7 linked regions of the Homo sapiens genome follow. The protein of the gene in region 1 purifies or fractionates together with the protein of each later gene. This does not show direct contact. Each region holds a gene or a part of one and is shown in the gene's direction. Other genes may lie near its edges. The genes, in order: MTPN, IBA57, ACSF3, RAB11FIP5, CYRIB, METTL2B and PTER.

What was found.
Region 2: the proteins of MTPN (region 1) and IBA57 purify together in Homo sapiens (affinity purification with mass spectrometry; one large-scale study listed by BioGRID and IntAct). This does not show direct contact.
Region 3: the proteins of MTPN (region 1) and ACSF3 purify together in Homo sapiens (affinity purification with mass spectrometry; one large-scale study listed by BioGRID and IntAct). This does not show direct contact.
Region 4: the proteins of MTPN (region 1) and RAB11FIP5 fractionate together in Homo sapiens (co-fractionation; one large-scale study listed by BioGRID). This does not show direct contact.
Region 5: the proteins of MTPN (region 1) and CYRIB purify together in Homo sapiens (affinity purification with mass spectrometry; one large-scale study listed by BioGRID and IntAct). This does not show direct contact.
Region 6: the proteins of MTPN (region 1) and METTL2B purify together in Homo sapiens (affinity purification with mass spectrometry; one large-scale study listed by BioGRID and IntAct). This does not show direct contact.
Region 7: the proteins of MTPN (region 1) and PTER purify together in Homo sapiens (affinity purification with mass spectrometry; one large-scale study listed by BioGRID and IntAct). This does not show direct contact.

The regions. Positions count from the first base shown.
Region 1 is NC_000007.14:135,970,860-135,974,359, reverse strand, and holds part of MTPN (myotrophin), read left to right. Parts: intron 1-3,500. UniProt on the Homo sapiens protein: Promotes dimerization of NF-kappa-B subunits and regulates NF-kappa-B transcription factor activity. Plays a role in the regulation of the growth of actin filaments.
Region 2 is NC_000001.11:228,164,625-228,168,603, forward strand, and holds the start of IBA57 (iron-sulfur cluster assembly factor IBA57, mitochondrial isoform 1 precursor), read left to right. Parts: upstream 1-1,179; 5' UTR 1,180-1,192; coding exon 1,193-1,533; intron 1,534-3,979. UniProt on the Homo sapiens protein: Mitochondrial protein involved in the maturation of mitochondrial [4Fe-4S]-proteins in the late stage of the iron-sulfur cluster assembly pathway. Operates in cooperation with ISCA2 in the maturation of [4Fe-4S] proteins.
Region 3 is NC_000016.10:89,138,852-89,142,351, forward strand, and holds part of ACSF3 (malonate--CoA ligase ACSF3, mitochondrial isoform 1 precursor), read left to right. Parts: intron 1-2,215; exon of another isoform or gene 2,216-2,425; intron 2,426-3,500. UniProt on the Homo sapiens protein: Catalyzes the initial reaction in intramitochondrial fatty acid synthesis, by activating malonate and methylmalonate, but not acetate, into their respective CoA thioester. May have some preference toward very-long-chain substrates.
Region 4 is NC_000002.12:73,078,449-73,081,948, reverse strand, and holds part of RAB11FIP5 (rab11 family-interacting protein 5), read left to right. Parts: intron 1-285; coding exon 286-2,298; intron 2,299-3,500. UniProt on the Homo sapiens protein: Rab effector involved in protein trafficking from apical recycling endosomes to the apical plasma membrane. Involved in insulin granule exocytosis. May regulate V-ATPase intracellular transport in response to extracellular acidosis.
Region 5 is NC_000008.11:129,845,561-129,849,060, reverse strand, and holds part of CYRIB (CYFIP-related Rac1 interactor B), read left to right. Parts: intron 1-2,186; coding exon 2,187-2,257; intron 2,258-3,500. UniProt on the Homo sapiens protein: Negatively regulates RAC1 signaling and RAC1-driven cytoskeletal remodeling. Regulates chemotaxis, cell migration and epithelial polarization by controlling the polarity, plasticity, duration and extent of protrusions.
Region 6 is NC_000007.14:128,483,248-128,486,747, forward strand, and holds part of METTL2B (tRNA N(3)-cytidine methyltransferase METTL2B), read left to right. Parts: intron 1-3,500. UniProt on the Homo sapiens protein: S-adenosyl-L-methionine-dependent methyltransferase that mediates N(3)-methylcytidine modification of residue 32 of the tRNA anticodon loop of tRNA(Thr)(UGU) and tRNA(Arg)(CCU).
Region 7 is NC_000010.11:16,510,010-16,514,245, forward strand, and holds the end of PTER (N-acetyltaurine hydrolase), read left to right. Parts: intron 1-1,036; coding exon 1,037-1,247; 3' UTR 1,248-3,736; downstream 3,737-4,236. UniProt on the Homo sapiens protein: N-acetyltaurine hydrolase that regulates feeding by catalyzing the hydrolysis of N-acetyltaurine into taurine and acetate. N-acetyltaurine has anorexigenic and anti-obesity effects that are dependent on GFRAL receptor and GDF15.

The DNA.
Region 1 (3,500 bases):
GTTGTACAGGCTGGTCTCAAACTCCTAGCCTCAAGCGATCTTCTGGCCTCGGCCTCCCAAAGCACTGGGATTACAGGTGTGAAAGCACTGGTTCACAGGTGTGAACCCGTTTTTCCTTTATAAATTAGTATTTTTAAAAGTCAGTAATTACACTTTTCTACCTGCCTCTGACTTCTCTATTAAAGTTCGAAGTGTGAGTATCCCTAAATCATTGGTTTTAGGTGAGTTCTTGAACTTAGAAAAGTCAGTTCACAGTCCCCAAACCACTGAAAATTGTATTTTGAAATGGAAAAGACAGTATTGAGAGAAAAATTTAGATTATTTAGAGAAAAATTTAGATTATTACATTAAATGTTTCATGTATAACTTTAAGACAATATCTGAAGCAATTTTAAAGTCTTTCAACACTACATTTGGCTTCTTGACTGACTTAAGGACCACATTTAGTTAATTCATTCATTTTTACTAGGCATCTTTCAGGTCTTAAACTCTTTAGTAGTCCTGGGATGATAGTACAGAAGTTCGACACAGTTTTCAGGAAACGTAAGCATCTATATTTAGCAGACCTGCGTGAAAAAAAATTCATACTTTTATAGTAGTATGCAAATTATAAATAACATCTCATTTTCATAAAATTCAGTTGTCCGGCTGGAAAACAAGTGAAAGCCAGAAAATAAGGTATTCATGAGCAGCTATAAGAGATATTCATAGCCCCATTTTTGATCTGGATGTTTCTTTTGGGTGACATTATTTTTGACTTTGTCTTACATTTCTGCCTTTATGTTCTCCTGTTGGAGTTAATTCTAGCCTCACCTGAATTTCAGACTGCATAAGCTCTGTTCAGACAAATTCCAAATTGAGCTGTTTTCCTCTCAAAAACTGTTTTTATTCCTATTGTGTCTCCATTTTCACTAATGGTATCATGACCCAACCATTTGTCCAAACTGGAAACTGGGAAATTTTCCTAGATTTCTGAGGGTTACCAAGACTACCTTCTTAGTCTCCCTCATCCATTCCTCACTCTCCTTTCTTCTTACTACTTTAGATCAGTTGCTGCTTCTTTCCAGCCTGGACTATATTTTCTTTCTTGACTATAAGAAAATAGTCAAGAAAGAATATATAGTCCAGGCTGGAAAGAAGCAGCAAAAATTGACCCCTTCCTGGTCAGTTTACACAGTTTAGGTGGAGGGATCTCTCAATAACATGAATATAAGCATGTAATCTTTTTCAGCCAGTCTCCTGCACTGCCCTTAAAATATTAATACTTTTGTGATTTCTCACTGCTTATTTTAAAAGGGCCAGCTCCTCATTGGTATGGTGTACTAGGCCACTATTATCTGGGCTTGCTTTTCTACACTTGCCTCTCTCTAAGCACTCTGCTCCAGACCCTGCCATCCTGTTTCTTCCTTGTAGATCTTTACATGTGTTCTTTCATCCTCCCTGACCAAGTCTGCTCACCTCAATCCCTAACCCCCAACCTGTTAAACTCCTATTTACCCTCCTAGGGTAAGTATCACCTCTAACAGAAAAACACCATACCGATGAGGAGTTGGCCCTTTTAAAATAAGCAATGAGAAATCACAAAAGTATTAATATTTTAAGGGCAGTGAGGGAGACTGGCTGAAAAAGATTGACTTCACATAGAGTGCTGCTTCTTTTACTGTTTTGCTCATCAGATTGCTGTGATTTTGTTTACATGTGTCTTCATTAGGCTCTGAACTCCTGGAGGGTAGATAATATATTCTTTTTCATCTTTCTGTCTCCAACATAGCGCCAAGGAATTTTACACATTAAAATCATGTTTCTGGTAAGAAATTCATTTTATTCTTAACTTAGCAATAATTTCAGCATACTTCATTAATTACAGAATAATAATTACCATTGACTGGATGACTTACATTGTCAGGTACTGGAAAGCACTCTGCAAGATGTTTTACCTAAGTTTTTATTTGCTTCTTACCACAGTGTTTCAGTATAAGTAATAATCTTATTTTAAGGATGAAGAACCTGAGGCTTAGAGAACTGAAGTAACTTGACAAGGTCACAAACTAAGTAGCATAACTGGATTTTAAACCCAGAACTGTCTGAATCTACATGGGGTGTGTGTGTGTGTGTGTGTGTGTGTGTGCGCGCGCGTGCGCGTGTGCGCGTGTGTATTTATAACCATATCAGTTTGCTTTAAAAGTGGTTTTTTTTTTTGCTAACAACACTTTAGAATTAAGAAAACGAGAAAGAGGCTTGTAAGAAGCCGGTACAACTAATTAGCTCTGACTGTGAATGAAGACAAAAATGGCAACCGTATTTTAAAAATTGTAAATGTAACAATTCAGAAATAATTAGTATAGAGACAAACATCTCTGTAAACTTAAACTCTCATCAGAGACTGTCATTACTCAAGACGTGTCCATAAGAGTGACTGATAGCCTGCAGAATGTTTTGTATTTATGGTCACATATAATCTAACCTTATAATTTATGTTCCTAATTGTGATCCTACACAGTCCAGAAAAAGTTAAATTTTGTTTGTTTGCCTTAGGAAGAAACAAAAATAACTAAATTATTGAGATTTCTATTCATAATTATTTAAATAAAACAAGTAACATTTTGAAAAAAGTATGTTTATTAAATTTTATGTATTTGAGGATTGTGATGCAGTATACAGGTATTATTTCATTTACTTATCAACAGTAAGCCATGAGCATTATTAATAATGTTAACCCCATTTTAGAGATTTTAGAGGCAGAGATTAAATAACTTGCTCAAGATCATAAAGTTCTTAAGTGGTGAAGCTGAGATGTGAACTCACTTCCTTGGGTTCTGAAGGAGTTTCAAAAGCCCCATGCTGTTAACTACTTCAGCATACCCTTGACCTTCATTTCTCAATAAGGCCAGAAACTAGGGGGGTACTATATTATTGAGTAAATAGTAAAAATAATCATAGCAGGATGGTAATTATCCATTGAGACTACTAAAAGGTGAGCTTTCTGGTGGATTTTGAGGATCCAACATGCTTACAGGTGAGTGCTTGTGAGTTGCATTGATAAATAGCCCCTTTTAATCTTCAGCAGGTCTGATACATGTACTCTCTTGTTTACATGTACTTCTATTTCACTTGCTGTGAAATAGAAGCCTGGTCTCTAACTTCCCTTTCTCTGTGGTTTCCTTTCCCTCCAGCCTCCATTCTAATTACATCTGCCGTTGACACTCTAATAGGTTTGAAAAGCAACAATTGTGCACCATGTGAAAGGATAGAATCTCTTGAACCTGAGAAAGATATCAACTCTAATCTTTAGAAATTCCAAGACTCATTGAGATCACTTTTCACTTTCCTAATAAAATAGCCAATTTAAAAGAGGTCCTGATTCAATCTACTTTGCATTTATTGGTTTTAGGCAGCTTCCCTTTTTTTTCTTCTTTAAATTATTAGTTTCTTTCTTATAAAAATGTATCACTGTGTGTTGCCCTTTCTACAGAAGGGCTGGTGACCTATTCAGAAAGCAT
Region 2 (3,979 bases), on another chromosome or scaffold:
GACCCTGGCCTGAAAAAAGCAGAAGTTACCAAGGATGTGATTTGAAGCTGTGATTGTGTCTCATCATGTCACACTGATTAGGGGTGCGGAGGGGTTGTGGGCTGGATGGTGCCTGTCCTTATCCGTGGAGACACTTGGGGATGGAGCCTCCTGCCACCTGCAGCTGAAGTCCCAATGGTCCAGCAAATGAAAAAAATGACACAACAGCCACACGTGGACGCTGGCGAACTGGTAGGAAAGAGGAAGCGGCCGGGTGCGGTAGCTCACGCCTGTAATCCCAGCACTTTGGGAGGCCAAAGCCGGTGAATCGCTTGAGCCTAGGAGTTTGAGACCAGCCTGGACAACATGGGGAGACCATTTCTACAAAAAAAATACAAAAATTAGCTGGTGTGGTGGCTAGCGCCTGTAGTTCCAGCTACTCAAGAGGCTGAGGAGGGAGGACTGCCTGAGCTCTGGAGCTTGAGGCCAGCCTGGGCAACATAACCAAGACCCTGTCTTTACAAAAAATAAAAATAAAAATAAAAATAAAAATAAAATGCTGATACATGCTAGACCGTGGATGGACTTTGAGAATACTATGCTGAGTGAAATAAGCCGTCGCAAACGACAAATCCCGTAGGATTCTGCTCCTGTGAGGTCCCTAGAGGAGGCACGCTCATGGAGCCAGAAGGTACAATGGGAGCTCCAGGGCCTCGGGAGTGGGTGTTTAACAGGGAGTTTCAGGTTGGGAGGATGAAGAGGTTCTCGAGATGAGTGACGGTGCCCGACATGGGTGGGTGAAAACGAGGAAGGCCACCGAATGGGACATGGGATGGCGCTTAAGAGGCCGGCAGAAACCTCGTTACCTACCGAGGGTGGAGCCTGCGTGCTGACGGATAGGCCGAGTCCCCGCCCCGAAACACACCCCGCGCACGATGCTCCGCCCCACACGCATGCCCCACCCACCCAGCAGGCACGCTCGCCCCGCCCGCCCCTTCCAGCTCGGGAGGCCCTGCTCCTCACGCACGCACTCTCAGTCGGCCTCAACCGGCGCTGCTCCGCCCCTCAGGCACGCACGTTCCGTTCACCCCTCACGCACGCACTCTGCGCCCGCCCCTTCCCGCCTCCCTCCGGCGGCCACCGCCAGGGGCCGCTGTGGCACCCGCCCCTCCCGCTTCCTTGGGCCCTTCCCGCTGCCCCACTCTTGTCCAAGATGGCGACCGCGGCGCTGCTTCGAGGCGCCACTCCGGGGCGCGGCGGCCCGGTCTGGCGCTGGCGGCTGCGCGCGGCCCCAAGGTGCCGCCTGGCCCACAGCTCCTGCAGTCCTGGTGGCGACCCAACGGCCGGAGCGGCCTGGGCCTGCTTCCGGCTGGACGGGCGCACCCTGCTGCGCGTGCGTGGCCCCGACGCGGCGCCCTTCCTGCTAGGGCTGCTGACCAATGAACTGCCGCTTCCGAGTCCTGCGGCCGCGGGGGCCCCGCCTGCTGCGCGCGCGGGCTACGCCCACTTCCTGAACGTGCAGGGCCGGACGCTCTATGACGTCATCTTGTACGGGTGAGCGCGTGCTGGGAGGGCGCTCGGGGGCGGGCACCCAGGGGAGTGGCCAGGGACCGGCACCCAGGGACAGGGCGGGCGCCCGGGGCCTGCAGAGGGCGTGGGGGGTGGGCACCCGGGGAGGGCCGGGATGGGGTGGAAGCTCAAGGGTGGGTGGGCCAGCGACTGGCACTCAGGGTCAGGCACCCAGGAGATTCCACTTGGGATGGACACCCAGGGGAAGCTCACCCAGGGCCCAGCACCCGGGGGAGGGCACCCAGAGGAGGGCTTGGCTCAACACCCAGGGATGGGTCAGCGACTCATCCAGGGGAGGCCTGGGGGCCAGCCCACCATATCAGAGCAGAGGCGTCTCTAGGTGGGCACCTCCCAAGTGGGCCATCTGGTGACCCTTCTCCCTCCGCAGGGACAAGGGGTTCAGGGGCCCCGCCTGGTGGCAGAGCTGTGTTTCTGAGTGACAGCTTGTGGTGACACTCCCGAGTTCTGTTTACCTTGTGTTTCCCTGTGTCTCCCCATAGCTGGTCACATTGGCATTTGGCTCAGTCATCTGTGCTGACATCACGACTGTCAGTGATGTTCATGCCGGGTCAGGGCCTTGACTGCTTACAGCCTTGGGTTTCCCTTGCCCAGCTTCCAGGGACCTGGATCCCTGAAACCTCCGCCCGGTGGAGTGGATCTGGTTCGCGGCCGCCTGCCTGCTGTCCCTGCTATGGCGGACCCGGTTCTTGTTCTCTTCAGCTTACTCCTGTGTTTTGGTTTCAGGGGATGGACACCTTTTTAATGACTTCCTGAGCTACGTGGGGTGAATTTTTGGACTCATTGTGTCTCTGCTAGTGGCTTTACCTGATATCCTGGCTGGGTGTAAAAATCTAGCTTGGAAATTGTCACCGACAATGTTCACATCACAACTTTGTTTTCTCGCTGCCAGCTTTTCTGAGAAGTCTGGTGCCGTTCTTATTTGTATGTGAACTGTGTTTTTCTCAGAAGCTTTTCTTTATTCTTGATGTCGTGAAATGTCATGCTGATGTGTCTTAGTTTGGGCTTTTTCCATATCACATCTCTGGGCACTTAGTGGGCTCTTTAAATCTAGAACCAGAGTTGGTGAAATACGGCCCTGAGGTCAGACCCAGCCCATTGCCGGTGTTTATAATAAAATTCTCTGGGAACCCCACCCGTTGGATTCCAGGTGGTCTGGGGCTTCTTTTTTTTTTTTTTTTTTGAGACGGAGTTTTGCTCTTGTTGCCCAGGCTGGAGTGCAATGGCACAATCTTGGCTCATTGCAACCTCTGCCTCCAGGGTTCAAGAGATTCTCCCGCCTCAGCCTCCCAAATAGCTGGGACTACAGGTGCCTGCCACCATGCCCGGCTAATTTTTGTATTTTTAGTAGAGACAGGGTTTCACCATATTGGCCAGGCTGTTTTCACACTCCTGACCTCAGGTGATCCACCCGCCTCGGCCTCCCAAAGTGCAGGGATTACAGGTGTGAGCCACTGTGCCCGGCCTGGGGCTGCTTTTGTCTGGAGTGGTAGAGTTGTGGCACGAGTGTGGCCCTCAAGCCTAAGTTATTCACTGGCCCTTTACAGAAAAAGTGTGCCCACCCTAGCTCAATAGGCTTAAATCTTCATGTCCCAGTTCAGAGATATAGTCATCATAGTCTGTCTTATGTATTCATTACATTCTGTCTAGCTGCTTTAATTTCTTCATCTTAAGAACTACATTCTTTGATTCTCTGGAGCCTTCTATGTTAGTACTTTGCTGTTCACATGTTAGCCTTACAATGATGTTGATTTTGGTCCCCAAATTCCCTTCCATATTTCTATAGTCCTCTCTTGTCCTTTTCCCTTTGAGTCCTAGTTCAATTGAATTCCTATTCTTAATAAGTGTTTTGTGGTGTAAAGTACAGCTGACTTTGCACTACATAGGTCACTTATGCGTGGATTTTCCTTCACCTCTGCCACCCTGAGACGGCAAGACCAACCCTTCTTCTCCTTCCTCCTCCTCAGCCTACTCAACATGGAGACCATGAGGATGAAGATGTTTATGTTGATCCATTTCCATTCAGTGAAGTGGAACTACATTTCCTCTTCCTTAGGATTTTCTTCCTGGGATTTGTAGCTTACCGTATTGTAATACAGTATATAATAGCATAAAACATAAAAAATATGTGCCACTTGACTGCGTATGTTATGCATAAGGCTTCCAGTCAACAGGAGTCTGTTAGTAGTTAAGCTTTTGGGGAGTCAAAGCTTAAAGGTGGGTTTTCAACTGTGTGGGGGCCAGTGTCCCTAGCCCTTGCATCATTCAAGGGTCAGCTGTCTGTCCTTTCTGTGTCTCAGGGCTTTTTCCTCTTCATCCTTTCTTGCCTGGTCTGGAGCTTGTCTGCAGACCTACTGGGCCCCAGCTCCCCTTACCAAGCATATGCTTGGTGGCTCCTCTGTGTCTTTCTATT
Region 3 (3,500 bases), on another chromosome or scaffold:
TGAGTGTTTTTACATTTTTATTTTTAAGCCAAAGTTACACACCTGTGGCTTAAACACCCAAGTAGTTGTAGCAGTTTGAGAAGAAGAATCACAGCCGTGCCCCTTCCCCAGACTCGCCGGCTGCTGCTTCTGTGCGGTCCCCGCATCCCGAGGGCCGCCAGCACCGCCACCTCCAGGCTCCTTTTTGCTGCCATGGCTTGAGTCCCGCAGAGGAGGCCCCTCCTCAGGCACGGCCCGGCTCAGTCCCGTATGGCATCTGCACTATTGAGACTATGGAGTCGCCGCTGAGAACTGAGCCCAGGAGACACTGAGGTTTTTCCTCTTTCTTTGTTTTCCAGAGTCGGGAAAGTCTTGGTTTTCTTGGTCTCCTGGTGCCAATTCCTCGTGGGCTGGGCTGGTCTCCCCATGGCGCCTCCTTCCCCATCACCACCACCCCTTCCCTCCTACCGGGTCAGGACGTCGGCTCCCAGCCCACAGCATCCTCGTCTTCCCTCTTCCGCCCCCAGCTGTGGGGACTGCTTTCCCCTGGGGCTTCCTGAGGCGGGTGTGTAGGGTCCGTACTTGGAGACTTGCGTGTCTCTCCGGGTCTTCGTTCTGCCCTCAGCCTTGCTTGTCGGTTTGGCTGCGTATAGGGTTCAGGGTTAGAAGTCGCTTCTCTATCATTTTCTGGCCTTCAGATTTGCTGCTGCCACAGCCGTGCTGAATCCTGGCACTTGGTGACCCCCTCCTTTTTTTTTCTGTTTTTTTTTTTTTTTTTTTCGAGACAGAGTCTTGCTCTGTCGCCAGACTGGAGTGCAGTGGCGCCATCTCGGCTCAGTGCAACCTCCGCCTTCCGGGTTCAAGCAATTCTCCTGCTTCAGCCTCCCGAGAGTAGCTGGGATTACAGGCGCCCACCACCACACCTGGCTGATTTTTGTATTTTTAGTAGAGACGGGGTTTCACCATGTTGGCCAGGATGGTCTCGATCTCCTGACCTCGTGATCTCCCCACCTCAGCGTCCCAAAGTGCTGGAATTACAGGCATGAGCCACCGCACCCAACCATGACCCCCTCTTTTTAACGTACAGGGTGTCCTCTGTCCCCAGACCCCTGAGCCCAGGTTGAGGAGCCACCAGCTGAGGACGGAGCCAAGGTCACGGAGCTGCCGGGTGAGCGCTGAGCCCAGGTCAGGGAGTTGGGTCTCAGGCCGTCACTGGGACTCCCTCTGCCTTCAAGAAGCCTCTTTCACCCTTGGCCCACAGAGGAGACCTGGATGGCACTGGGGTCCAGGTGCAGAAGCCTCCAGTGTCCACGGGCACCTGAGCTTCCAGCACCTTCCCTCCTGCTGGGCGGTGGCCTGTGCCTGGCCGCAATGGAGGCCGCCTTCCCCACTGCCCCTCTGAGCCTCAGTCTGTCCTCCCTGCAGCCACCTCCCCTGGCCAGGTGCCCCGGGGTAACTGGTGGAGGCTTTCACGTAACTTGGTTTCCAGCTGCCTCTGTACACACACAGGCACCTGTTCCAGGCTTGGCCTCTCTGTACACACACACGGGCACCTGTTCCAGGCTTGGAGGCTGAGAACTTGGGGGCAGAGATCTCAGGGCATCGGCTTGGGCGGGGTCCTTGGGCAGGGCCTTGGGCTTCCCTCGGCACTTTCCTCAAGGACTGGGGCCAAGCTTCACATTCTGTTGCTGGCATCAGTGCCATTTGGGAGCAAAAGTCCGACAGGCTGGGTCTGGGCCTCTCTTCACCTTGTTTCCTGGGATCGCGCTTTGGGTGCTGGTGTCACTCCAGATCCAGGCTCGGGAACCACATCTGCACAGCAGAACAGGCGCTGTTCTTATCTTGCGTGCGGGTCAGGACATCCCCCCGGCCAGGAGTGCTTCCTCCGAGGCCCACAGACAAGTTCTCGCTGGGGGACTGGGGACCACAGCACCTCACTCCACCTACACTCTAGAGAATTCAAATCTGAGTATTGGAAGATTTATTTTCAGTTACAGTGGAAGGCAGAGACATGAAATAGCACCAAATTCAAAAGCAGCTCATAAATCCAGGTAATAGGAGTTTATTGATTGCTACATTGTATCTGTCAGAAGAAAACTCCTTTAATGAACACATCAGGCCGAGGACATACACAGCCCATTGGCAGCCGACTCCGATTCCAGAATCGATGCATTTTGATAAATAGGTTGTTATGGAAAGTAAAGGTTATTTAACTTGTTTGACTTGCATTTCACAGTGATCGCAAGTTGCCCTGGAGCCCTCTGAACCTTCTGAGTCGCCCTCGCTGCCGCAGGACCTCCTCCCGCGGGGTGTCCGACCCGCTCTTGCTTGGCTGAGACTTTGTTTAAACCCTGGCTCCGATGCCTCTGAGCCCTTGATAGCAGCGTCCCAGCCTGGAAGAACAAAACCAGCCACTTTTCCCCTTGGCAAAGGCACAGCAAGGCGGGTGAGGCGGGCGCTGAGTAGTCTGGGAATGGGCAGGGAGATGTCGACCCTCGGAGCTGAGACTGCTCTGTGCTGAGAAGCTAGAACAAAGCCTGACATGTTCCAAGGGGCAAGCTCAGGGCTGGGAGGGAAGCAGCGGGGCCGCCCCTTTGGGTGGGGGTGCCCAGGCCTTGCAGACAAGACACTGGCCAGAGGAGGTGGAGCAGGGGTACTGGGGCAGAGGGGCCATGTTTGTGCAGCAGGATGGACCCTGGAGGGCCCCGGCCTAGAGGGGGCCTTTGCCAGGAAGATGCCAGGAACGTCCAGGCCAAGGCGTCCGGGCAAAGGCATCCAGGCCCGGGAGACGCATGTGGGACTTGGGCTTTCCTCTGTGGGCAGTGGGAAGTCTCTCCCTACCCCTGGAAGGAGCTCCAGGCAGCAGTGAGGATGGGGATTCTGACACTGGAGTGGGGAGCCGGCCCTGTGGTGCTGGCTGGGCTGAGAGCGGCACCACCTTCTGATGCCCAGGGTGGGAAGGACACACGACTGCCACCATGCACTGAGGGCCCTGCACGCCACACACGTGCTCTGAGCACTGAGGGTCCCCTCATGCCACGCACAAGTTCTGGGCACAGAAGCACCTCTCAGAATCATCCCCGAGACAGGCGTCCATCACAGAGACAGGTCTCAGTCCTGCACTGATTGGCTTCGCCCAGTGCTGCTGGGGGAGTCTCAGACACAGCCTTTTTCCGACAGGTATAGCTGCCACTTTCTCCGGCACAGAAGCCTGGGGCCCTGGGAATGGCACCATGTTGCGCGCCGACCCCTACGGTTCTTCCCTCCGCATGGCTCAGTGGAAACCGTGCGTGCAGCACAGCAGGCAGCTGGGGCCTGTGACGACCCTGGGGTTGGAGGCCAGGCAGGGCTATCACTGAGAAGCAGGGATTTGGGGCCTGGGGCCCAGGGAATGGACAACTCCCCAAGCTGCCCCCACCAGTCCTTCCTGAGCACTGGCTCTGGAAGAAGCATCTCGGGGCAGAGGCAGCCAGGCCCAGGCAGGGAGAGACCCCCAAACAAGGCCTACAGCAGGGTCTCAG
Region 4 (3,500 bases), on another chromosome or scaffold:
CACTTGGTTAGGTTTGGATCGGATCCTGCCTATCAGATGAGATGATTTCTCTCTGGGGTTGGAGTGAGCATTAAAATAGCTTTGCCTGGCATATTTCTCCTTGGGAGGCACTTGATAATGTTACATGTTGGGGTCTTCCCTCTGTACCCTGGCCCAAGTAGGTAAATCCAGCCTATGTGTGTGTTATGGCCCCTGGTCCCGAAGCAGGGGGTGGGGCGTGGGACTCAGGGGCCTTTCCAGTCTTGGCATTAACCAGGAGGCTCACGGTTTTGTCTCCCTCCACAGCCTGGACGTGTCTCCTCAGGTAGAATCTGACCCAGCTGCTCTTCCTCACCACCTCCCCTGCTCCCCCTGGGCTCCGGCCCCTCCCACTCCTGCTCCCACTGCTGCTCCCATGCTAAGCACTAACCTTTTTGCAGCCGCCTCCCCCGCTGCTGCCACTGCTGCCGCTGCCGCCACCACCGCCGCCCCTGAAGCCACCCCACCTGGATTATTGGGTCTTACCAACCCGTTCCTCACCTCTTTGCAGAGCAACCCCTTCTTCGAGGAGCTCATAGCCGACATAGCACTAAACTCTCCTTCACCTGCTCCCTCTCTCCCCAGTGCCTCGAGGGCCAGCCCCACCCCCCTGGCCTCCCCTGGGAAAGCCCTGCCTGAGTGGGACAACACCTTCAACGTCTTTGCTGCCAGCAGGCTGCGTCCAGAGGCCAGGAGCGAGATCCTGGCCCCTGCAGGAGTGGGGCTGGAGGCGGCAGGGCTGCAAGACCCAGGCCCTGGGGCCATGACTGCGAAGGCAGCTGAGCCCCAGGGAGAGCCTGGGGGAGGAGGAGGAGGAGGAGGAGGAGGAGGAGGAAGAGGTGGGAGCAGCGTGTGGCTGGAGCCCAGGGTTCCTCTGGACTTGGGACCGAACCACCAGAGCGCGAGCGCGGCTGACCCAGGGCTCCTCGGGTCGGTAGGGGCTGGCCTGCCCTCCTCGTCAGCCCAGCTACAGCTGAGAGCCTCAGGCTCAGAACCAGACAGGGAACTGCCAGCCCCGGAAGTGGAAGCAGGGCAGAGTCCGGCAGACAGTGGGACATCTCTATTTAGCTCCCCAGAAGTGATCAGTGTGTGGGAGAGGCTGCCGGGCCCAGAGAGCGCTGCTGAGGGCCAGGACGATGAGTCCTCCCGAGGCGAAAATCAGCTTTGCCCTGACGTCGAGACAGCTGATGATGCCTGGCCTTGGGATGTGGTCACCATTTCTCCTGCAGCTGAGACAGCCTCACTAGTCTTTCGGGGAGAGTCTGATGAGCCTGCTCCCCAGGTGCAGCCTGAATCACCAGAAACTGTGAGCCCCAAGGGGAGCGAGGGGCTTCCCCCACCGGAGCCCGAGCCTAAACCCGAGTGGGTGTCTGACAAGGGGCTGCAGCCCAGCACCCCACCTCCCAAGCCACCGCGCCTCTTCACACCCTCAAGATCCCAGGAGGAGGAGGAGGAGAAGGCCGCAGTGGGGCTGAGTAACAGGGGGCCGGAGACAGAGGGAGAAGATGCCTCCCCAAGTGCACTGGTTGTCGGTCCCCCGGAGACCAAGGAGGAGGGAGAGAAGCGTGAGTCGGAGGAGTCTGACAGCTGCTCCTCTGCAACCCTGCTGGGCCAGCCTGGCCTGGAAGAGCTAGTGGAGGATGCCAGCCCCCCTGTGTCTGGGCCCTGCCTGTCTGCACCCGCCAGCTGCCCTGAGGGTCCTGCCCCCATACCCTGTCACTCAAAGAGCTTGGCTCTTCAGAGTCAGCACATCTGGGGGACTCCAGAGGTTGGAGAAGGCCCTGAGGCTCCTGAGGCCCAGGGCCAGGATCCAGTAGGAGAGGGGCTTGGGTCCTTGTCAGCCACCTCCCAGCAGGCTGATGTGTGGGTCTCCAAGGAAGATGCCTTGAACCCCTTCTTGTTTCAGGGGAGCCGAGATCCTCCCAGCCTCTCATCTGCATCCCCGCCAGGGTCGAGGGAATCTTCTATTCATTCTGGTCCAGAAGAGCTGCCCACTCCCCCAGAGCCTGACTTTCCACCGCCCCCTCTCCCGCCTTGGGCCAGCCACCACCGTGGGGGGCCCAGCCCTCCATGCTCTCCCCTGTCTGAAGCCTGGCCCCTGACTACCTCCTCTGCACCACCAGGGGAGCCAGCCTTACTCCCTGGCCCCCATGAGCCCTCCCCACCTGGGGGCTCCCCTGCCCTACTTAGGGAGGACCTCGCTGCAGCCACCCCAGCCTCCCCGCTTGTGCTTCTGCCCTTGGAGACACGACCAGCTGAGGAGCCACAGCCCAGTGCCAGGTGAGCATCCACCCCCAGAACACTGTCCAGGAGGAAGGGGGTGGACAGGGGGCAGAACAGCCCAAGGGACTGAGGGGTTCACACTCCAGTCTCATCCTTTGTGGGGCAGGTGAGGGTCTCTTTTACCCCAGAGGCAAGACGGTACAGGCTTTGAAGACAGGAGCTTTCTATGGTACCACCTCTGAAGCTGCTGTCTTGGGACTTGGGATAATCAAGGCAGCCCCCCACAAGCCAGGGGTTTGGAGAACAGCACTGATGAGGTGCAGGGTATAAGGAATGAAGTGGGGAGAGCCGATGTGGGCTGGCAGGGAAGGAGAGCAGTGCTGTAGGCCCTTCTGGAGTGTGTGCACTCAGCCGCAGGGGAGCTGTGGGTGGGGGGCGGTGGAACTTGTCAATCAGGGGGTAGTTCTTGGGGCAGACCGTGGCAGAGCAGGCTGGCAGTGGAGCCTTGAGCAGTTTCCTATTCTGCTAGAGTGAGGGTGCAGGCTGGGGAAGGCAGAGAGCCAGAGGAGGGACCAGCACTTAGGTCAGAGAGAAAGCTGCAGACACCTTCAGAAGAAAAAGGAAAACTCAAACACTTCCCACATATGTAACTCTCAGAAGAAAGGTTCCCCACGCGCAGCAGTTGCTTCATTGGTTTGCGTTTGGTGCCTTTTAAGGGGTGGTTCTGATGCACTTAGGACCGCTGAGTGGACAGCGGATGCCTGTGTGACTGTGCTCACTGTGGCATTGGGAGGTTTGGAAGAATTATGAAGCTGTGACCTCACCAGGTGGCTGGTCAGGGGTGATGTGGGCAGAGGCCTGGAGACTCAGGGCACTGGGAGGTGATGGGGTGTGACTTAGAAGGCAGCAAGTCCCTCTGGGACGATAGCGCTCTAGGAGGACCGAGTGAAGGGAGGGGAGAGCAGGGCAGGCTCCAGCACTGGCCTCCCGACCAGGCATTCATGTTTGGTCATCCACATTCACTGAGCACCTACTATGTGTCAGATGCTGAACAGATGAAAGACACTGTCTCCACTCTGTTCCCAAGGAATGTCCAATCCACTGGGGAAGATAAAGTGGACCCAAGAAGGGAAGAAACCCCAAGGGGCCAGAACTACATATGGGAAGTGGGTGGGAGGGAGTCCAGGCTGCCCCCAGTGTCCCTCCCTGGTGGTGGTGGTGACTCTCCTCCCTTGAGGTGAGGGAGAGGATGTGGGGGA
Region 5 (3,500 bases), on another chromosome or scaffold:
GAATAGAATGATCAAAGGATGACTATATTGTCTAGTGAGTACCTCCTGGAAGGCTTCTACTACGTATTTGGCAATATAAATAGATAATTAGATATAAGGAATTTTGAGTCATATCCTTTAATTCCTTTGGCCAAAGGCCATTTCAAATAAAATGTTTATTTCAGAATGCATATAAAAAGTCAGTAGTGCTGCTGGGCGTGCTGGCTCATGCCTGTAGCCCAAGCACTTTGGCAGGCTGAAGCAGGAGGATCACTTGAGCCCAGGAGTAGAAGACCAGCCTGGGCAGCATAGTGAGACCCCCATTTCTACAAAAAAAAAAAAAAAATTAGCCAGGTGTGGTGGCACACATCGGTAGTCACAGCTACGTTGAGAGGCTGAAGTGGGAGGATCCCTTGAGCCCAGGAGTTCCAGCCTGCAGTGAGCCACGATCACACCACTGCATTCAGTCTGGGTGAGAGAGAGACCCTGTCTTGAAATTAAAAAGACAGCCAGTAGGATGCTCCAGTGGAAAAAGATGAAGACTTTATGTATTTTCCCTCCCCTACCTAGTCATAATAATTTGTGACTATAGTTGGCTCTCGACTTTTCTTCTCTCTGTAAAAGTTTGTATTAGAAATAGTTTTCTAATTTCTCTACTTCGTAGTTTCTTTCCCCAACCTCTCACATCTAGTTCATTAGTGTTTGGTGAGAATTGTCTTCCCGTTTCCCTTTCATAGCTAGTTTAGGCTCTTAGCATTTCGGATCTCGATTACTGATTACTAGCCAAGCTTGTTGCCTTCATGTACACCTGTCATATGTAAAGAGAAATGAGTTAATATTTACTGTATGGTTGCCATGTCCCAGGAATTTTACGTTTGTTCTCCCTTGTGACTCTGAAAATACTCTTTTAGGTGTCATCTCCCTTTACTGACAGGGCAACTAAAGTTTAGCAGATCAAGTAATAGAATTGCTAGTAGGCCGGGTGCAGTGGTTTATGCCTGTAATCCCAGCACTTTGGCAGGCCGAGGCAGGCGGATCACCTAAGGTTAGGAGTTCAAGACCAGCCTGGCCAACATGGTGAAACCTCATCTCTACTGAAAAAAAATACAAAAATTAGCTGGGTGTGGTGGCACACATCTGTAGTCCCAGCTACTCGGGAGGCTGAGGTGGGAGAATCGCTTAAATCCAGGAGGCAGAGGTTGCAGTGAACCAAGATTGCGCCACTACACTCCAGCCTGGGTGACAGAGCGAGACTCCATCTCAAAAATAAAAAGAGTTGCTAGAAAAGGTAGAACCCACATTTCTCTGGCTTCCAAAGCCTGTGTTCTTTCTGCTGTATTATGCTTTTTTATAACAACCAGGCTAATATATCTTAAATACCATCGTCATCAAGTGGTTACCTTTTAAAATAACCTGTGAGTCCCCTGCTGCCAGGCATAACACTTCGTATAACTCATCCTGGCTTTCAGCCTCTCATAACTCCAGGTGCAGTGCTGAAAAATTCCTATCTGTCCTCTGTGTGATACTTTACTCTGTGAGGTTTCTCTACCTGAAAGTTCTTCTTTTCCTTAGTAACATACTCATTCTGTCCTTTATTTTTTATTTTATTTTATTTTTTGTGACGGAGTCTCGCTCTGTCACCCAGGCTGGAGTGCAGTAGTGCGATCTCGGCTCACTGCAAGCTCTGCCTCCTGGGTTCACGCCATTCTCCTGCCTCAGCCTCCCGAGTAGCTGGGACTACAGGCGCCCACCACCACGCCTGGCTAATTTTTTTGTATTTTTAGTAGAGACGGGGTTTTACCGTGTTAGGCAGGATGGTCTCGAACTCCTGACCTTGTGATCCGCCCGCCTCAGCCTCCCAAAGTGTTGGAATTACAGGCCTGAGCCACCCTGCCCAGCCCATTCTGTCCTTTAAATCGCCACTCAGCACCTTTTCCAGAAGTCTTCCCTTAGCAAACCGTTTGTTTTTCATTGCATGTGTGGTATATTAGTTTGACTGATTTTGTTCTCAAAAAGATTTTGTTTTCACTAAGTGAGAATAATAACTCTTAGGTTGGGTTTTTTTCTGTTCTAAGAATAATTAATTTGACATAGTATGTAATCTCTTGAGTTCCATAGTTATGGTCTTGATTTATTTTACTATTTTGAAAAGGAATGTTACATGAAAAAAATGGCTGTTTTACCTTTTCTGTTTTCTTTTTCTTTAGATGAAAGGTTGTATCAAAGTTCTTAAGGACCAACCTCCTAATAGTGTGGAAGGTCTTCTAAATGCTCTCAGGTGTGTATATGTACGTGTACGTATGTACAGAAAAAATCTGTAAGGAAAATGGTCGATGTTTATGTAAAGAAAATGCATTAAGTGTGAATAGGATATAAAAATAAGTGTTCAAGCTAGAAATATGAAGATCTTATTTTGTTTATTGATAATCTTGCTTCCAAACACTGGTTACGGTATTTTATGATGAGGAATGTGTGGGACACATGACAATAGCAGCTTCATTTTCTGGTTGAAGATTTTGGCTTTTACTTGTTGCTTCTCTTCAAACAGAGATTGCTTGTTTTTGTAATAAAAGTATTATATACCAGTTATAAATAAAATTCAGAAAACATAAGAAAATGTAAATAAAAAGAAATAATGTAATCTCACCATTTTGAGATAAGCCACTATTAGCATATAGCCTTCCAGAGTTTTTTCTTTACATATATAGATAATAGCTCTATGTAGTAGTTATCTTTTTACAAAATAATATCTTACAAAGTGGCTTGTAACTAGCTCTTTCCTCTTAATAGAATGTAATTACATTTGTGCTCAGACTTGTGTTCTGTTATTTTTATGTATTTCCTACAATAAAAATTAAGTAGTCATTATTTAATGTCTTTTCTTAGATTAGTTTTACTTAATTTAGTTGCTCAAACTTCTACAAATGCTAGAACATTATTTCGTTATTTAGAGTTGGAATCTCGCTCTGTCACCCAGGCTAGAGTACAGTGGCACAATCTTGGCTTATTGGAACCTCGGCCTCCCAGGTTCAAGTGCTTCTCCTGCCTCAGCCTCCCGAGTAGCTGGGATCACAGGCATGTGCCTGTATTTTGTATTTTTAGTAAAGACAGCGTTTCACCATGTTGGCCAGGCTGGTCTCAAACTCCTGACCTCAAGTGATCCACCCACCTTGGCCTCCCAGAGTGCTGAGATTACAGCATGAGCCACTGTGCCCAGCTGCTAGAACATTTTTAAATGAAAATCTCGATACTTTATAACATTTGACTACAGAGATTTAATTGGTAGTATTCACATGACATAAAAGATGATGTCCCATTACTTGATTTTTTGAGGGTTTAAACACAAAAATTACATGAACACAGAAATATTTATATAATGATATTTACCACATAAAATGTAGGCTGTATCATTTCAGCTAAGCGGAACTGTCAAATGATTTTATTAAGATTATGAAAAAATGTTTAAAAATAGTTTTTAAAAGATTATGAAAAGTGTTGCATAAGCGGTAGCTGCCTGAATA
Region 6 (3,500 bases), 7.5 Mb from region 1:
TATCTTACTAGAACCCACTTGTTCATGTAATTCACTGGCTTAGAATTGGCATGTTTTCTACTGCCTGTGAATCAGGTTTAAATTGTTGGGCATAGTTTTCAAAGTCCTCTACAAGAGTGTGCCCTATAAAGTATGTCCTCTTATCCCTCAGTGCACTGGTCACACCTTGCATGTCTTCCCCTGACTCCGTACCTTTCCAAAATGTCCTTTGTTTCTACTACTCTATTTCCTTCCTTCCTCACATTCAGATCAGAAGCATCTAGAAAACTTCCCTAGTTGTTATCGTCCAGCTGCCTCACTCTGCAGTCTTTTTCGAGACAGTCTCACTCTGTCACCCAGGCTGGAGTGCAGTGATTCGATCTCGGCTAGCCGCAACCTCCGCCTCCCAGGTTCAAGCAATTATCCTGCCTCAGCCTCCCGAGTAGTTGGGATTACAGGTGCCCACCACCACGCCCAGCTAATTTTTGTATTATTGATTGATTGATTGGTTGATTGAGACGGAGTTTTGCTCTTGTTGCCCAGGCTGGAGTGCAGTGGTGCGATCTTGGCTCACCGCAACCTCTGCCTCCTGGGATCAAGTGATTCTCCTGCCTCAGCCTCCCAAGTAGCTGGGATTACAGGCATGCGCCACCATACCCAGCTAATTTTATGTTTTTAGTAGAGACGGGGTTTCTCCATGTTGGTCAGGCTGGTCTCGAACTCCTGACTTCAGGTGATCCACCCGCCTCAGCCTCCCAAAGTGCTGGGATTACAGGTGTGTGCCACTGTACCCGGCTAATTTCTGTACTTTTTAGTAGAGATGAGCTTTCACCATGTTGGCCAGGCGGGTCTCGAACTCCTGACCTCAGGTGATCCACCCACCTCGGCCTCCCAAAGTGCTGGGATTACAGGCATGAGCCACCATGCCCAGCCCACTCTGCAGTCTTTACAGCCTTTTTATGTTTCTTGAGTTACCCTATTGCCTAGATCCTTTTTTTTTTTTTTTTTTTTTTTTTTTTGAGACAGGATTTCTGTCACCCAAGCTGGAATGCAGTGGTGCCATCACAGCTCACTGTAGCTTCAACCTTCCAGGGTTCAGGTGATCCTCCCACCTCAGCCTCCCAAGTAGCTGGGACAACAGGCGTGTGCCACCACCCCTGCTAATTTTTGTCTTTTTTGTAGAAATGGGGTTTTGCCATGTTGCCCAGGCCAGGGTTCTTAATATTTTTTTAATGTATCTGATAAAGCCTTAGGATCATTTCTCAGGCTAATGTATTTTTCATTTGTTTTCTTTTTATATATAACAGCTTTATTGAGATATAAAGTGTGTAATACAGTGGTTTTTTTGTTTGGTTGGTTTTTTGTTTTGTTTTGGTTTGGTTTTGAGGTGGCATCTTGCCCTGTCGCCCGGGCTGGAGTGCAGTGGCACGATCTTGGCTCACTGCAACCTCTGCCTCCCAGTTTCAAGCGATTCTCCTGCCTCAGCCTCCTGAGTAGCTGGGATTACAAGCGCCCGCCACCACACCCAGCTAATTTTTGTATTTTTAGGATTCACTGTGTTGGCCAGGCTGGTCTCGAACTCCTGACCTCGTGATCTGCCTGCCTCGGCCTGCCAAAGTGCTGGGATTACAGGCGTGAGCCACCGCACCCGGCTGTAATACAGTGGTTTTAAGTTAATTCACAGAGTTGTGCAGCCATCACTGCAGTCAACTTCAGGACATTTTCATCACCCCAAAAAGAATCCCTATACCCATTAGCAGTCACTCCCCATTTCCCAATTTCCCCCAATCTCTAGCCCTAAGCAACCACTACTCTACAAATGCACAAATCTCTATATAGATTTATCTTGGGCTAATTTTAAGTATATGAAGTAAAATAGAGAAAATCAATTATTTTGAAATACAGTTCTATCCTCAGAGCCCAATTAAGGACTCTGATTTTAAAAATAATACTCTTAGCCCTTCATATTCACCTTTTCTGCATCCGAGGATTCAAGCAACCATGGATTGAAAATAAATAGTATAGGCCAGGCGCAGTGGCCCATGCCTATAATCCCAGCACTTTGGAAGGCCAAGGAGATAGGATCACCTGAGCCCAGGAGTTCAAGACGAGCCTGAACAACATAGTGAGACCCCGTCTCTACAAAAAAATTAGCCGCCTGGTGCTGCGGCTCACGCCTGTAATCCCAGCACTTTGGGAGGCCGAGACGGGCAGATCACAAGGTCAGGAGATGGAGACCATCCTGGCTAACACAGTGAAACCCCGTCTCCACTCAAAATACAAAAAAAAATTAGCCAGTCGTGGTGGCAGGCACCTGTAGTCCCAGCTACTCGGGAGGCTGAGGCAGGAGAATGGCATGAACCCAGGAGGCGGAGCTTGCAGTGAGCGGAGATCGCACCACTGCACTCCAGCCTGGGCGACAGAGTGAGACTCCGTCTCAAAAAAAAAAAAAAAAATTGCCAAGCATGCTGGCATGCACGTGTAGTCTCAGCTACTTTGGAGGCTGAGGCCAGAGGATTGGTTGGGGCTGCAGTGAGCCATGATCACACCACTGTACTCCAGGTGACAGAGCAAGACCCTGTCTCAAAAATCAATAAAACAACAATTTTTAAAACTATAACTGTTTACATAGCATTTATATTAGGCGTTATAGATGATTTAATGTATGCAGGAGGATGTGTGTGGGTTGTATGCAAATGCTACACCCGACACCATTGTGTAAGAGACTTGAGCTGGATACCAAGGGACAACTATATGACCTGTAGAAAACTTAAAGAAAAGCACAGGCCGGGCGTGGTGGCTCACTCTTGTAATCCCAGCAGTTTGAGAGGCCAAGGTGGGTAGATCACCTGAGGTCAGGAGTTCGAGCCCAGCCTGGCCAACATGGCGAAACCCCATCTTTACTAAAAATACAAAAATTAACCAGGCGTGGTGGTGGGTGCCTGTAATCCCAGCTACTCAGGAAGCTAAGGCAGGAAAATGGCTTGGACCCAGGAGTGGAGGTTGCAGTGAGCCAAGACCACGCTATTGCACTCCAGCCTGGGTGACAAAAGCAAAACTCCGTCTCAAAAAAAAAAGAAAAGCACAAAGAGGCCAGGCACAGTGGCTCATGCCTGTAATCTGAACACTTTGGGAAGCCAAGGTGGGCAGATTACTTAAGGTCAGGAGTTCAAGACCAACCTAGTCAACATGGTGAAACCCTGTCTCTCCTAAAAATACAAAAATTAACAAGGCATGGTGGTGGGCACCTGTAGTCCCAGCTACTCAGGAGGCTGAGGTGGGAGAATCACTTCAACCTGGGAGGCAGAGGCTGCAGTGAGCTGAGATTGTCCCACTGTACTCCAGCCTGGGTGACACAGCCAAGACCTCGTGTCTCACAAAAAAAAAAAGAAAAACATGAAGAAGAAAACAACGCTTGCCAGGCGCGGTGGCTCACCCCTGAAATTCCAGCACCTGGGGAGGCCGAGGCAGGTGGATCACCTGAGGTCAGGAGTTTGAGACTAGCCTGGCCAACATGGTGA
Region 7 (4,236 bases), on another chromosome or scaffold:
TTGAAACAAAAAAGATACCTTTCAAATAATCAGCCTCTGGAGGAAGGCACTGTCCGTCCGTCTAGATCCACTTTAGAATCTAGACGCCAAAAAAACTATTCAGAGAATCCCATAGAAGAGCCATTGTCTGTGAGTGGCATCTTCTACCATCAAAGACCCATGGAAGTCACGACAGACACTGCCCAGAGTCCAGACACGTACAGATGGTGGCTGTCAGGAGGTGACTCACACTACAGATTCCAGCATTTAACAAAGCAAAGAGGATTTCATTTTTAGAGAATAGTCAGGAAGCTGTTCTTTAGTCCACTGACTATAAATTTAAAGGAACAGCTTATTATTTTAGCAATCTTGCTGACATGGAAAGAAGACAGAATATATTTGTATTGGTCAGTTTAATCCAATGCTCAGAGGCTACAACTAAATCAAAATTGCCATAGACTTCAAAGGGGCAAATGGTTAAAATGCTGACCAACCTTTTTTCAGTGGCTTTGTAGCTTATCAAATGCCCCTCACTTGCAGACCAACTGATTTTGCTCTCAGAATATTTTACTTGTAGTGAGATTCCTTTTGTTTCCCTATTTTAATCGCAAACAGTCCTTGATATTTTTTGGCCAGATAAAAGGAGAGAGCAAGAATGAGATCTGAAAAATGGGCCCACAGGGAGAGGCATTTGAGAGAGGATTGCTGAATACAAATCCAGAACAAAGTTATTTAGTGAAATGCCAAAATGGTCATTCATCCAAACTGGCACATCCTATTAGAAGCTATCTTTAATGCGGTATTGCCAGGCATGGTCATAAATGTCACAGGTTAGAAATTTCTGTATGCATGGAATAAGGATATGTTCCTGCTAGGATGCAGCAATATTTTTATCGTCACCACACAATATTTATTAAAGGTCTCTCAGTACACACGCCACAGTAGAAGTCAGTATCTTTACGACAAGCACAATAGGTTAATGAGTAAAAAGTTGAAAGCATCCTGAAAAGCGAAAATGAAAGACAAATGACATCTAATGAGTTAACATTTTTCACAGGGTGCGTCTCCTGGTGGAAGAGGGCTGTGAAGATCGAATTCTGGTAGCACATGACATACATACGAAAACCCGGCTGATGAAATATGGAGGTCACGGCTATTCTCATATACTCACCAATGTTGTTCCTAAAATGTTGCTGAGAGGCATAACTGAGAATGTGCTTGATAAGATTCTAATAGAGAACCCTAAGCAATGGCTAACTTTCAAATAGGATGGTTGCTTATGAATTCACACCTTGAGTATAAAACTTGCAGAGAACATTCAGCGATTTCCAGTCCACTGTGAGATATTAATCAGTTACCTAGGACTAATGACAGATCATTTCCTTCTGATGAGAACTAGGAGGGTTTGCCTTCTCTGAGACCAGCTATTACAACTGTGCCTCTAGGGAGTTACTCAGCCTAATTGAGCCCTATTATTTTAACTTAACAAAATAAATACAGAAGTACCTATTTCTAAACAATGATTTAAAGTCTATATCCCCTAAGCGGAGTTGTTGTTTTTCTCCCTAATCTATCAGCTGCACTACTTGAGAAAATTTAAAGTGTTTCTAGTTAAATTATTTCCTTCTTGAGCGATCTAATGTTTCTTGTAATATTGATGATCCTACTAATTATCCTGCTGTTCTTTAATTAATGCTTAATGAATAATATGGCACTGTAAAATAGCTTCTGCAACAAGGGAAGTTAAATTTTGAGACTTTTTTCCCCAAAGGATACTGACTGTAATACAATTACCAATTCACAATGATAAAAATATTTTGAAAGGTTAATTTTATACTGTCCACCTATCTATATATTCTTCTACTGAAATGATTTTGATATCTTTGGCTTTCCGGTATCTATTTTTGCCATACATTTTGCTGTTTTGCAAAGTTTGTATAAGAACACATAACACTACTGAATTATAAAAATTCAATCATAAAAGTCAAAATATATTACATAATATAGTTTAATGAATCATTACATTTATAATAACAAAGGCCACAATTTAATTAATTGGTAAGATATAATGCAAAAAAAAAAAGAGAAATGTTTGCCTTATGTATATTCCCTTTATTTCCTTTACCTTTTGTTTTTCCTTGGACCTAAACAGAGAAAATAATGCTTATGTATCTGAAGAAAAGGTCAGATCTATTGGAAATGACAGCCCGATACTTGAGCCTCCTCTTTAAAAGGTATCCAGCCCTGATATTTTGTGTAAATAAAATGTTTTTAAAACCTGTTAGTTAAAACACTTAGGTGATGGGCACTGCTGCTTATAAATTCATCTTTTGGTTGAATCCTCACTATGCTATTTGGTACCTAAAAATATTCTCCAAACCCTTGCTGCCAGTTCCTCTTTGATAAATATATAGTTAATTCGAAATAAAATCCATTGCAATTCATTTATGAGTTATCTTACATATCACAAAGACCAATTAGAATTAGTCATTATTCTTGATGAAGAGTCTGTTTTTAATCATAAAAATCATGACAGTTACTCAGACCCAGGCATTTCAACAGAGCTAACACCACCTTCAGATAGGCACACCATGCATAACTCTTGGGAAGTTGAGCTTTGCTAAATAAAAGATATTTCTGCTGATCAAAGATGATCAAGCTTTCTGTGTATTGGAACAGAAAGTAACAAAGAGGAATGAGCCAGGAGAACAAACTAATTCCTTTAAATAAATAAAAAAAAAAAATGCAAATGTCCTTCACCAGTAAAGCAAGCAAATTTTTAAAATCTCTGTTTTTGAAATCTACTCGTCAAAGAGTTTTCAGAGGCAATGAAAGGGGAACAGATTTTTCATTGTAATAGTGGAAGTTGTGTGATAGTTAGGAGATATCAACATGCATTTTTAATCTTTTCCTTAGATGAAAGAGATGGCTTTTGGCAGTGTGTTCTAACCAGAAAGAAAGGATTTGTATTACTCTCCAAATCTACTGTACTGTCAGCTTCACTCCACCTGAGAAAAAAGAAAAAAAAATTGATAGCTCAAATGCATGTAATTCATAAACACTGCAAAGGAGAGCCACTTGGTGTCTGCAGTCCTCATATTAACAGTCTGTCACAGAATGCAGTTAAAGTATTGATTGGCATATGGTAATAGAGCAACCATAGCCTTAACTTACAGACCTGTGAAATAAAGGGCATTTTGACCTAATACAATTAATTTTCTGGATAACTCTTAAAGAGAAGTCATTTTAACTGTTTTTGCTACTCCATATATTGTCATTCAAAATATATTTTAACCCAAAATAAGTTAAATAATTTGTGCATGTTTGTGTGTGTATATATGCATACACTTTTTTATATTAAAATTTTGAGGCTATACAGCCACTGTGCCCTGTGGAATAAAGCCATATATATAAATGTTTTATATGTATATGTTTTATACATAAATAAAACATTTCATCTAATATATATATGTGTGTGTGAGTATATGTGTGCATGTTTAGCAGATATTTGTATAAAATATAAACACTCTGTTGTCATATAGGCTATATGCGAAATTGTTAATTTTAAAATAACCTCAGGCCACAGACTTGTAGTAATCATTTGAAGGCCTCACCTAGTGTCCCCTTGGTGACGTATGCAGCAGCTCAAATTAAACCTTTGTGCATTGGGTTATGAATAATCTTTTCTTCCAAAGATGGCAAAAGCCTCGGTTTGATTTGATACTAAAGAATAAATTTCTCTGACTTTCCCAGTGAATCTAAATGTATTCAGTTGACAAAATGGACACATAAGGGCTTTTTCTAAATACCGTACATAATTACACATTTTCACACTTAGAGGGTAATCCTATGATACACTGTCAATCTCTATTTTTAAAGACTATCACCAGAAAAGAGAGAAAAGAAAATTCATATAAGAAAAAGAAAATGTGAAAAAGATCATAGGCTTGGGAATTCCCTCAAATCCAGAAAATTCCAGGTTAAGGCTTGAAGTTGAATCATTCCCAGGTCTAGCTCTAAGGTTAACAAGAGTACAAGGCAAACAATTTCTTTGGGGACAAGCAGCATTATTTCAATTAGACCTTCTCCTGCAGGGCAAAAATCATTCTTCCCCACACTATGAATGGACTCCAAGTATCATAATAAGCAGGTAAACTCACAAGAACCAAAGCTGACATATGGATAAAAGCAGCAAGATCACAGTACACCAAAGTATCATATATATAGAAGAAATAATTCAATGTCTTAGATTTGTCT